3 linked regions of the Homo sapiens genome follow. The protein of the gene in region 3 interacts with the protein of the main gene of each other region in a pairwise test. Each region holds a gene or a part of one and is shown on either strand. Other genes may lie near its edges. The genes, in order: PPM1D, PAX2 and MRC2.

Evidence for each region.
Region 1: the proteins of MRC2 (region 3) and PPM1D interact in a two-hybrid assay, tested with the Homo sapiens proteins (one large-scale study listed by BioGRID and IntAct).
Region 2: the proteins of MRC2 (region 3) and PAX2 interact in a two-hybrid assay, tested with the Homo sapiens proteins (one large-scale study listed by BioGRID and IntAct).

What each region holds. Positions count from the first base shown.
Region 1 is NC_000017.11:60,606,678-60,610,324, forward strand, and holds part of PPM1D (protein phosphatase 1D), read left to right. Parts: intron 1-3,647. UniProt on the Homo sapiens protein: Involved in the negative regulation of p53 expression. Required for the relief of p53-dependent checkpoint mediated cell cycle arrest.
Region 2 is NC_000010.11:100,748,435-100,752,081, forward strand, and holds part of PAX2 (paired box protein Pax-2), read left to right. Parts: intron 1-1,311; coding exon 1,312-1,480; intron 1,481-2,259; coding exon 2,260-2,457; intron 2,458-3,647. UniProt on the Homo sapiens protein: Transcription factor that may have a role in kidney cell differentiation. Has a critical role in the development of the urogenital tract, the eyes, and the CNS.
Region 3 is NC_000017.11:62,690,135-62,693,781, forward strand, and holds the end of MRC2 (C-type mannose receptor 2 precursor), read left to right. Parts: intron 1-21; coding exon 22-171; intron 172-507; coding exon 508-627; intron 628-814; coding exon 815-994; intron 995-1,977; coding exon 1,978-2,004; intron 2,005-2,096; coding exon 2,097-2,317; 3' UTR 2,318-3,463; downstream 3,464-3,647. UniProt on the Homo sapiens protein: May play a role as endocytotic lectin receptor displaying calcium-dependent lectin activity. Internalizes glycosylated ligands from the extracellular space for release in an endosomal compartment via clathrin-mediated endocytosis.

The sequences.
Region 1 (3,647 bases), 2.1 Mb from region 3:
CTTTCTAATGATGTGTACGCCTCCCAAATTTACAAAGGAAAATTTTTTAAATGGCTTATTTTTGTCTTGAGGTAGGGAGATTTGGTAAATACAGTATGGAATGAAAGAGTATATAAATATATTCTTTTTTTGTGTGTGTGACAGGGTCTTGCTCTGTTGTCCAGGCTGGAGTGTAATGGCATGATCAAAGGTCCCTGCAGCCTTGACTTCCTTGGCTCAAGGGATCCTCCTGCCTCAGCCTCTGAAGTAGCTGAGACTACAGGCATGTGCCTGCAAAGTAGCTGAGACTACAGGCATGCGCCCAGCTAATTTTTTTTTTTAATTTTTTTTTTTTATAGAGACAGGGTCTTGCCATGTTGCCCAGGGTGGTTCCTTACCCTGGGTTCAAGAAGTCTTCCCAGCTTGGCCTCCCAAAATGCTGTTATTACAGGCATAAGCCACCACATCCAGGCCTGAATATATTCTTTATTAAAAGGTCATTATTTTTCTTTTTTCTTTATTCATGATCATAAGTTTTAGGTTATGCCTAATTTATACTCACATATATATGTTTACTGCCCTTTTATTATGCTTGCCTTCTAAGAAATAAGTTTTTTTGTTTGTTTTGTTTTGTTTTATTTTTGAGACGGAGTTTTGCTCTTGTTGCCCAGGCTGGAGTGCAATGGTGCGATCTCAGCTCACTGCAACCTCCACCTCCCGGGTTCAAGCGATTCTCCTGCCTCAGCTTCCCGAGTAACTGGGATTACACGCATGTGCCACCACACTCAGCTAATTTTGTATTTTCAGTAGAAAAGAAGTGAGACTCTGTCTCTGGGGTTTCTCCATGTTGGTCAGGCTGGTCTTGAACTCCCGACCTCAAGTGATCCACCTGCCTCAGGCTCCCAAAGTGTTGGGATTACAGGCGTGAGCCACCGCACCTGGCAAAAATAAGTTTTAAAGTTTGTATAGGCTTTTTTAGGTTTACTTATTGGAAATAATGTTTTCATTGTCCCTTCTTTTGATAGTTTAAAGAAGATGGTGAATGAAGTGCAGCTTTTAGCTCTGTGTCATAGTCTTATCAATAGAGTCAATAGAAAGATGACATTCTGCAAAGGGTGATCTCTGGTGTGATTACAGGGAATTGGCCACAGTATTTGTAAAGGAAGATGAAATACAAAAGTTTCATTTGTTAACTTGGACTGAAGATTTAGAGCATTCATTTTAAAAGAGTATGACCAAGGAAATCGTGAAGAAGTTAATCTTAACATAAATTGTTGGTTCTAGATTTGGCATTACTTTAATTTAAAATGGAAAGAAACCAAAGTGGGGAGAGAGAATTGAATTTGGAGAAACCTCTTAAACTATAGAATTTTAAATGTGTATCTTGTTTTATGTTGGTTGTTCGCATTTTTTCATCATAAAGGATCTTCACCTTCTCATAAATTATACGTTCTGAAAGAGTTGTGTGCCATATTACTTATCAAGTTCAAATTTATTTTTTCTATTTTCATTATCAGTCATTACTTTTGATCCTTATTAGGTAGTCTCTCCAGAATTGATATCACTTAGAGAAATAGAAGCAATTTAAATTCTCATTAGTTTCTACATTATGCAGGTAAAACTAGATTTCTTTGCATCTTTATATTATGAAATATTCAAAAAGATGTAAAATGATTAAACAAACACCCATCCATAACTCAGCTTAAAAAATAAAACATTACCAGGCCGGGCATGGTGGCTCACGCCTGTAATCCCAGCACTTTGGGAGGCCGAGGCAGGCAGATCATGAGGTCAAGAACCTGATGAAACCCAGTTTTTACTAAAAATACAAAAAATTAGCTGGGTGTGGTGGCATGCGCTGGTAGTCCCAGCTACAGTGAGCTGAGATCAACGACACTGCACTCCAGCCTGGCAACAGAGCGAGATTCTGTCTCAACAATAAATAAATAAATAAAATAATAAAACATTACCAGTATAGTTAAGCCCCTTCTCTCTGTGTCATATTACATCTTTTTCACTCCCCATGAGGGGCAACTGCTTCTATATTCAGTGTTTATCATCCTCACTATTTTTTTTATAATTTTATTAGGTATATCTTTTTTTTTTTTTGACACAGAGTCTCGCTCTGTCGCCCAGGCTGGAGTGCAGTGGCGCTATCTTGGCTCACTGCAAGCTCTGCCTCCTGGGTTCACACCATTCTCCTGCCTCAGCCTCCCGAGTGGCTGGGACTACAGGCGCCCGCCACCACGCCCGGCTAATTTTTTGTATTTTTAGTAGAGACGGGGTTTCACCGTGTTAGCCAGGATGGTCTCGATCTCCTGACCTCGTGATGTGCCCTCCTCGGCCTCCCAAAGTGCTGGGATTACAGGCGTGAGCCACCGCGCCCGGCCTTTATTATGTATATCTTTAACCAATATACAGTACATTTTGTATTTTGTTTGTTTGTTTGTTTTTTAAGACAGAGTCTTGCTTAATCTCCCGGGCTGGAGTGCAATGGCGTGATCTCGGCTCACCGCAACCTCCGCCTCCTGGATTCAAGCGATTCTCCTACCTCAGCCTCCCCAGTAGCTGGAATTACAGGCGCGCACTACCACGCCCAGCTAATTTTTTGTATTTTTAGTAGAGATGGGGTTTCACCATGTTGGCCAGGCTGGTCTCGAACTCCTGACCTCGTGATCCACCCGCCTTGGCCTCCCAAAGTGCTAGGATTACAGGTGTGAGCCACCGTGCCCAGCCTGCATGGTTTTTATAACTTATATATGACATCTTACTATATGTATGCTATTGTCATCCCTTATGTGTTGGTTTCACTTTCTGCAGTTTGTTAACTTTGTTCAATGTTGAAATATTAAATATAAAATTCTAGAAATAAACAATTTGTAAGTTTAACTTGTGTGCTGTTGGGAGTAGCATGATGAAATCTTGTCTCGTCCCACTGTGTCAGCCCTGGATGTTAATCATTTCTTTGCCCAGCATATCTACGCTGTATATGCTACCTACCTGTTAGTCACTTAGTAGCTTGTTAGTCACTTAGTAGCCATCTTGGGTGTGGTTATCGGATCAACTCTTATGGTATTGCAGTGTTTATGTTCAAGTGACTCTTATTTTACTTAATAATGGACCCAAAGAGCAAGAGTAGTAATGCTGGCATATTGTTATACTTGTTTTATTTTATTAATGTTGTTAATTTCTTACTGTGCCTAATTTATAAATTACATTTTATCATAGATACGTATGTATAGGAGCCAAGCACGGTGGCTCACGCCTGTAATCCCAGCCCTTTGGGAGGCAGAGGTGGGCGGATCATGAGGTCAGGAGATCAAGACCATCCTGGCCAACATGGTGAAACCCTGTCTCTACTAAAATACAAAAAACTAGCCGGGCATGGTGGTGCGCACCTGTAGTCGCAGCTACTCAGGCGGCTGAGGCAGGGGAATTGCTTGAACCTGGGAGGTGGAGATTGCAGTGAGCCGAGATCGTGCCACTGCACTCCAACCTAGCAATAGAGTGAGACTGTCTCAAAAAAAAAAAAAAAAAAGATATGTATGTACGTATAGGAAAAAACATAGTGTATATAGGATTTGGTACTATCCAAAGTTTCAGGCATCCTTTGGGGGTTTTGGAACATATGCCCCTGCGATAAGGGGGTACTACTCTATTCTTCTGGG
Region 2 (3,647 bases), on a different chromosome or scaffold from region 3:
AAGGGAGGGGAGAGAAATGAGGGGGGCACAGATGTCCCCGCTTTCTCCGAAACTCGCGTGAGGCTAGCGGGGCAGGGGCTGCAGCTTGCCAGTCCGGGCCGACCCGACTCGGCCGCTAGAAGTCTCTGCGCTTGGATTGCTCAGTACCTGCGGCTACGGGTTGATCGCTCTGGGTGCAGGATTTCTAGACTGCTGTAGGCCAGGGAGAATGGGGCACAGGAAGCACCCTCAGGCCTGGCACCCAGTGGCCGCCTCGGTTCCGAGATCGGGAGCCCGCGCTGGAGCCGGGTTGGAAACCCCGTGCCCTTCTCTTGGCCGAAAGAGCAAAAGCCCGAGCCGCTCGGTTTCCTGGGGGGGCTGCCGAGGTCTGAGGGGTCAAAGGGACTCGAGTCGGGTTTGGGTCGGCTACACAGGGCGCCCCGAGAGTTATTAACTCGCCAGCGAGGCCTATGCCGTGCCACCTGGGCGAGACGGTGGGCCCCAACCAGGCTCTGCGAGGCGCGGCAGGCAGGCGAGCCCAAGCAGCCGGCATTCTCTGCCTGCTGCCTGGAGCCGCTCTGCCTCCCTGTCTCTGAGCGCAGCAGACCCCGGGCCCCTGCCTCATCCGCCTTCCTTGCTCTACTTCAGATACTAAGGAGGTGAAAGAGAGATACGGTCCCCCTACAGATAAATAACATTAGAAAAACTTCCCATCAAAAACAAACAACACAGGAAAGAGGTAGAAAAATTCCGATTACAATTTAATACTTTTTAAAGAAGAGGCAGAGAGCAAAGGGGGGTGTGTGTGTCAGGCACTTATCCCCTGTCTGTGCTAGGAGCTCGGATAAACAGTCAGCCGAGCCTCGACGCCCCCAAATCGTCCGCCTCCAAGCCCCGCACGCGCGGACAGCTCCCGGGTTGCCTGCGGCGCAGGCGGGATGCTGCTTCGCACTAGTCCAGTCCTCTGCCAGGCCCTTCCTCTCCTCGCTTTCTTACGCCCTTTCCGCTGGCATGAATTCCCCTTTGGCATTTTCTCCCCTCTCCCCTCTTTTCTGTCATCTGGTTTCTCTCCAGTCCCCCCTTTGCTTTCTACCTTGCGTCGCAAGGCCTGAGTCGCCCTCTCGCCCAGCCCCCAGTCTTCAGCCCAGCGTCTGTGCTTCCAGTCCCCACTCCTCCGCGTGGTCGTGGAGGTCCACCACCTTTCTTCTCAAGCTCGGGAACATGCCCTTCCGCCCTGCCTGCTTCCTTCGCCCGTCCCGGGCCGCGGACCCTGACTAATGGCCGGTCCCTGCTGTGTGTGGGGTGTTGTGTTTTTTTCTTGTCTCTCCCCAGCAGGGCACGGGGGTGTGAACCAGCTCGGGGGGGTGTTTGTGAACGGCCGGCCCCTACCCGACGTGGTGAGGCAGCGCATCGTGGAGCTGGCCCACCAGGGTGTGCGGCCCTGTGACATCTCCCGGCAGCTGCGGGTCAGCCACGGCTGTGTCAGCAAAATCCTGGGCAGGTGAGGGCTTCGCAGCTGTCCCGGGAGACGCCTTGCCTACTTCCCCGGCCAGCCCTGGGTCTCCAGCTGGAGGACGTGGCTAAAAGTCCAGCGTGCCAAGCCAGAGAGGGAGATCCCCAAAGGGGTCTGGAGAGGTGCTCCTTTTGGAGAGAGTGTTCAGATGGTGGCTGAAGACCCAGGAGCGAGGGTGGCGCAGTGTCACCCAGTGCTTGCCCTGCCCCTGGTCCCTGGTGAGAAGGCAGCCCGTTTCTGGCTTCAGAAAGGGAAGGATGACTTTCCTAATGGAGTTAAGGCAGATACGGGGTGGGAGACATTAGAGGAATGGGGGGGGAGTGAAAATGGGTCCCCGAGAGGAGAAGCAGCAGCATTTGGGAGGCAGAAGGAGGGTCCTGGTTCCCACAGATGCTCTGTGCCCAGTAGGAAAGGGCTCGAGGTGGTGCCTCAACCCTGGCCTCCCAGAGACCTTGCAGCGCTGTTCGTTTTGCTCTTCCCAAGTGAAAGGCTGGGCTTTCACTCCCACGGGTGCCTATTTGGGCTGGTGCGAACCCAGCCCCTGGTGTGGCCGTCTCCCTGGAGGGATGGTACCCCTTGTCCTCCTACTCCGCGGCGCTCCTCCTAGCCAGGCACCCTCAGGAAGTCAGCTCAGCCACACTGGGCCTTTTCCCTCCACTCCGCTGCCTCGGCCGGGCAGGAGAGTGGCTCAGCAGCTCTGGAACCTGCAGCCCCCCTGCCCCGCCACAGTCCGCTTCTGGCTGACCCCGCCGGCTTTCCCGGCGCAGGTACTACGAGACCGGCAGCATCAAGCCGGGTGTGATCGGTGGCTCCAAGCCCAAAGTGGCGACGCCCAAAGTGGTGGACAAGATTGCTGAATACAAACGACAGAACCCGACTATGTTCGCCTGGGAGATTCGAGACCGGCTCCTGGCCGAGGGCATCTGTGACAATGACACAGTGCCCAGCGTCTCTTCCATCAACAGGTGAGCAAGCCACCCGGGTTTTCAGGGCTGGACTCCAGCTCCTGGCTCCTGCCTGCAGGGGTGTCCCACGCCCAGTCTCTGCTCTTTGTCCAGCCTCTGCCCTTTCTCCCTGCTTCCAGCCCCAAATCCTTCTGTCAGAGAAAGGGAACCTGTGAGGCAGAGAGTTAGACAGACAGACAGGGCTGTCTGCAGTTCAGGGCTGGGTATTCCCTGCCAGGCTTCTCCCGCCGGCGTCCTGGAAATGAATCCAAGTGTTTGTGGTAATTAAGACTCCAAGATTACGAGCATCCAGCCTTGGGATCTTGAGACAATCACAGCCTGCAGCCGGAGCCTTTAAAATGACCAGTGTCTATTCATCCCTCCAAACAGACTGGCCTTTCTAAAGGCTGCTCCTTCCCCAGGGGCCGCCGCTTGTCCTGGCTCCCTCACCCTCCCTGCCAACTCCCACAAAGCTCACCTCCCAGGAGTCTGGTCTTGCTAGCCAGCTCCACACAAATTTCTGGCCTGTAGGCACTGGGATCCGGGCTTGCAGAACAAATGCCAACCACCAGCCAGCAACTGGCAGGGAGTAGAGGAGCTGGACAAGGAGGGAGTGCCAAGCAGGGAGGGAGAACTCCAGACTTTGAGACTGAACCTTGGGTGATACCCTCAACCACCTAAGGTGCCTGTCTCCAGGCTGAAGTCTTTGCACTGATGACAGGCTCACACACGTGAGGACAGCACAGGGCTGAGTCAGCTTGACGTGTAGGATATTTAGGTCTCCTGGTCTCCAAACCCCTCCAGTGTGCTCTCGGGGAGAACACATGTGCACACTCCATGCATGTCCACCCTAGCCAGTGTGCCAATATGCCTATCTGTGGTAGCTACAGAACATACAAGCAGCACTGGGCTCAGGAACCCAGGCTGGTTTCAAGATCACAGAACTGTACAAACTGACAGTTGTTCACAGAGTCCCTGCACAAGTCACACACCAGCCTTGGCCCCCCATTTTGAGACACCCCAAAATGAAAAGAGGGCTAAGCAGTTCATACCTTTGTTATTTTTTGCATTCTTCATAAGCTCATTATCAGGGCAACTAATAATTCACATGGTGCCTTATTCTGAAATTGGCATCACATATAAAGGATTTTTTAAATATTTTGCAAATGATATGGAATTATCCCAAATCATCCTGAAAACAGCAGGTAAAA
Region 3 (3,647 bases):
CTTAATCCTGTACCCCCACAGGGCCCCCTCCTCCCCGAAGAATAAGCTACCATGGCAGCTGTCCCCAGGGACTGGCAGACTCCGCGTGGATTCCCTTCCGGGAGCACTGCTATTCTTTCCACATGGAGCTGCTGCTGGGCCACAAGGAGGCGCGACAGCGCTGCCAGAGAGGTGGGTGACCAGGCCAGAGCCCACACATGGCGGGCAGGTGGCACCTCCTCTCGTGGGCACTCAGACCCATGAGTACATCCCCACACTGCTCTCTACCCATAGGCAGCACTTACACAAGATGCCCTCGTGCTCTCACATGTGGAGACCATACATGACACTATATGTGCATATGCTGCCCCCCCACACACTTGCACATGTGCACACACACACACATGAATCCACAGACTCCACACCATCCTCTACTCAGGCTGCAGAGAAGAGGGCTGGAGCAGCTCTGGGGGACTCTGCCCCCCCCGGAGACCCATCCGCCCTGACGTGGGCCTTCTTTGCATCCAGCGGGTGGGGCCGTCCTGTCTATCCTGGATGAGATGGAGAATGTGTTTGTCTGGGAGCACCTGCAGAGCTATGAGGGCCAGAGTCGGGGCGCCTGGCTGGGCATGAACTTCAACCCCAAAGGTGGGTGCCCTGTGTGTGGGGTGGAGAGGTCAAGCCTCAGGCTGTAAGGGGCTGCCCTCCACTTTGCCCTGAGCCTTGTCCTGGGGCTTGTCGGGGGACAGGGAGTCGGTTCTAGAACACACCTGCTCTCCTCCACCTACTCCTGCCCCACCTTGTCCCTGCTCCCTCAGTGCCTTCTTTCCTGCAGGAGGCACTCTGGTCTGGCAGGACAACACAGCTGTGAACTACTCCAACTGGGGGCCCCCGGGCTTGGGCCCCAGCATGCTGAGCCACAACAGCTGCTACTGGATTCAGAGCAACAGCGGGCTATGGCGCCCCGGCGCTTGCACCAACATCACCATGGGTGTCGTCTGCAAGCTTCCTCGTGGTGAGCGCCGGGCAGGCCCACGCTCAGCCTCCTTCCACCCCGTGCCGCTGGTCCTGGGCTGGGGCTGGGGGCTGCTTCACAACTGCAGGGGGCACAGCCGATGGGAAGGCCTGAACAGAACGGACTGCGGGCAGCTGGGACCCCCGGGATAAATTAGTCAGTGGGATGGACTGGACCTGAAACTTATCATCCAAACTAGACCACAAGGCTCGGGGGTCAGCAACCCCCTGTCACTTTGTAGTGGTCAAGGGCATGGACAGAGTTCAAGTCCTGGCCATGTCACTTATCAGTGGTGTGACCTTGGGCAGAGTCTGTGGCCTCAGTTTCCTCGTATGTAAAATGGGAATAATAGTAGTTCCAGACTGATGTGGTGGCTCATGCCTGTAATCCCAGCACTTTGGGAGGCTGAGGTGGGCGGATCACTTGAGGTCAGGGGTTCAAGACCAGCCTGGCCAACATGGTGAAACCCCGTCTCTACCAAAAAGTACAAAAATTAGCTGGGCGTGGTAGCACATGCCTGTAGTCCCAGCTACTTAGGAGGCTGAGGCATGTGAATTGCTTCAACCGTGGAGGTGGAGGCTGCAGTGAGCCGAGATCGCACCACTGCATTCCAGCCTGGGCAACACAGCAAGACCCTGTCTCCAAAAAAAAAAAAAAAAAAAAAAAGTCCCGACCTCCTAGAGTGCTAGTGAAGCTAGTAAAGATGAGGTGAGTTAGGGAAGGGGCTGACACCCAGGCCTCCCACGAGGGCTGGGCTGAGACCTAGCTGAGTGCAGCATGGCGTTTTCCCTTTCTGGGGGAACCTGAAGTCTTGTCTCTTGGGCCTGTGCCCCCACAGTAACCAGAGGTAGGATGGGAGGGGGAACTAGAGCCTCTTTCTCCCCAGACCTCCCGGCCCAGGCCTGTGTGCTTTGTATGTTTACTTAAGTGATTATTACGATGATCACTGCTATTATTAACTGGCCCCCTCCTCTTGCCCACAGCTGAGCAGAGCAGCTTCTCCCCATCAGGTGAGTGAAAGGCAATGCCCCCAGGTGGGCAGGCAGGAAGCACTGCTGGGCCTAACGCCCACTTGGCCTTTCACGCCCACTCGCCTTGGCAGCGCTTCCAGAGAACCCAGCGGCCCTGGTGGTGGTGCTGATGGCGGTGCTGCTGCTCCTGGCCTTGCTGACCGCAGCCCTCATCCTTTACCGGAGGCGCCAGAGCATCGAGCGCGGGGCCTTTGAGGGTGCCCGCTACAGCCGCAGCAGCTCCAGCCCCACCGAGGCCACTGAGAAGAACATCCTGGTGTCAGACATGGAAATGAATGAGCAACAAGAATAGAGCCAGGCGCGTGGGCAGGGCCAGGGCGGGAGGAGCTGGGGAGCTGGGGCCCTGGGTCAGTCTGGCCCCCCACCAGCTGCCTGTCCAGTTGGCCTATGGAAGGGTGCCCTTGGGAGTCGCTGTTGGGAGCCGGAGCTGGGCAGAGCCTGGGCTGGTGGGGTGCCACCCTCCCACAAGGGCTGGGCTGAGACCCAGCTGAGTGCAGCGTGGCGTTTCCCTTTCTGGGGGGGCCTGAGGTCTTGTCACCTGGTCCTGTGCCCCCACAGGAACCAGAGGTAGGATGGGAGGGGGAACGAGAGCCTCTTTCTCCCCAGAGCCCCCGGCCCAGGCCTGTTGATCCGCGCCCCAGGACCCCCTTCTTTGCAGAGCCCGAGGAGCCTCCCCTGTCCCCTCGGGCAGATCTGTTGTGTCTCTCTTCCCACCTGGCAGCCTCAGCTCTGTGCCCCTCACCCTGCTCCCTCTCGCCCCTTCTCTCCCACCCCTTCCTTCTGAGCCGGGCCCTGGGGATTGGGGAGCCCTCTTGTTCCTGATGAGGGTCAGCTGAGGGGGCTGAGCATCCATCACTCCTGTGCCTGCTGGGGTGGCTGTGGGGCGTGGCAGGAGGGGCCTAGGTGGGTTGGGCCTGAGAACCAGGGCACGGGTGTGGTGTCTGCTGGGCTGGAGATAAGACTGGGGAGAGACACCCCAACCTCCCAGGGTGGGAGCTGGGCCGGGCTGGGATGTCATCTCCTGCCGGGCGGGGGAGGGCTCTGCCCCTGGAAGAGTCCCCTGTGGGGACCAAAATAAGTTCCCTAACATCTCCAGCTCCTGGCTCTGGTTTGGAGCAAGGGGAAGGGTTGCCAGAGTCCTGGGGGCCCCAGAGGAGCAGGAGTCTGGGAGGGCCCAGAGTTCACCCTCTAGTGGATCCAGGAGGAGCAGCACCCGAGCCCTGGAGTGGCCCAGTACCCTTCCAAGAGGCCACAGTCCCAGCCAGGACAAAGTATGCGGCCCATCCTGGTGCGACAGCGTGGGACAATGTGAACATGGACTCGAAGACATGGCCCTTTCTCTGTAGTTGATTTTTTAAATGTGCCATTATTGTTTTTAAAAAAAAAGGAAAAAAGAAAAGCAAACAAATAAAACACCTTTAAGAGGCTTGAAAGAGAAGGTTCTGCCTTGTCCTGTGGTGAGCCTGCTTCTTCACGTCTGTCCCTTCGGAGATAACTGTTGTTTTGGAGCTTGCACCACAGGTGTTTTCTGCAGCTGGCCATTTTGCGTCTGTCTCTGGGCCTCTAGGGGACACTCTCACCCCCGATCTTTAGGAGCTCACCCCTCTGGGCCTGCGCCTCCC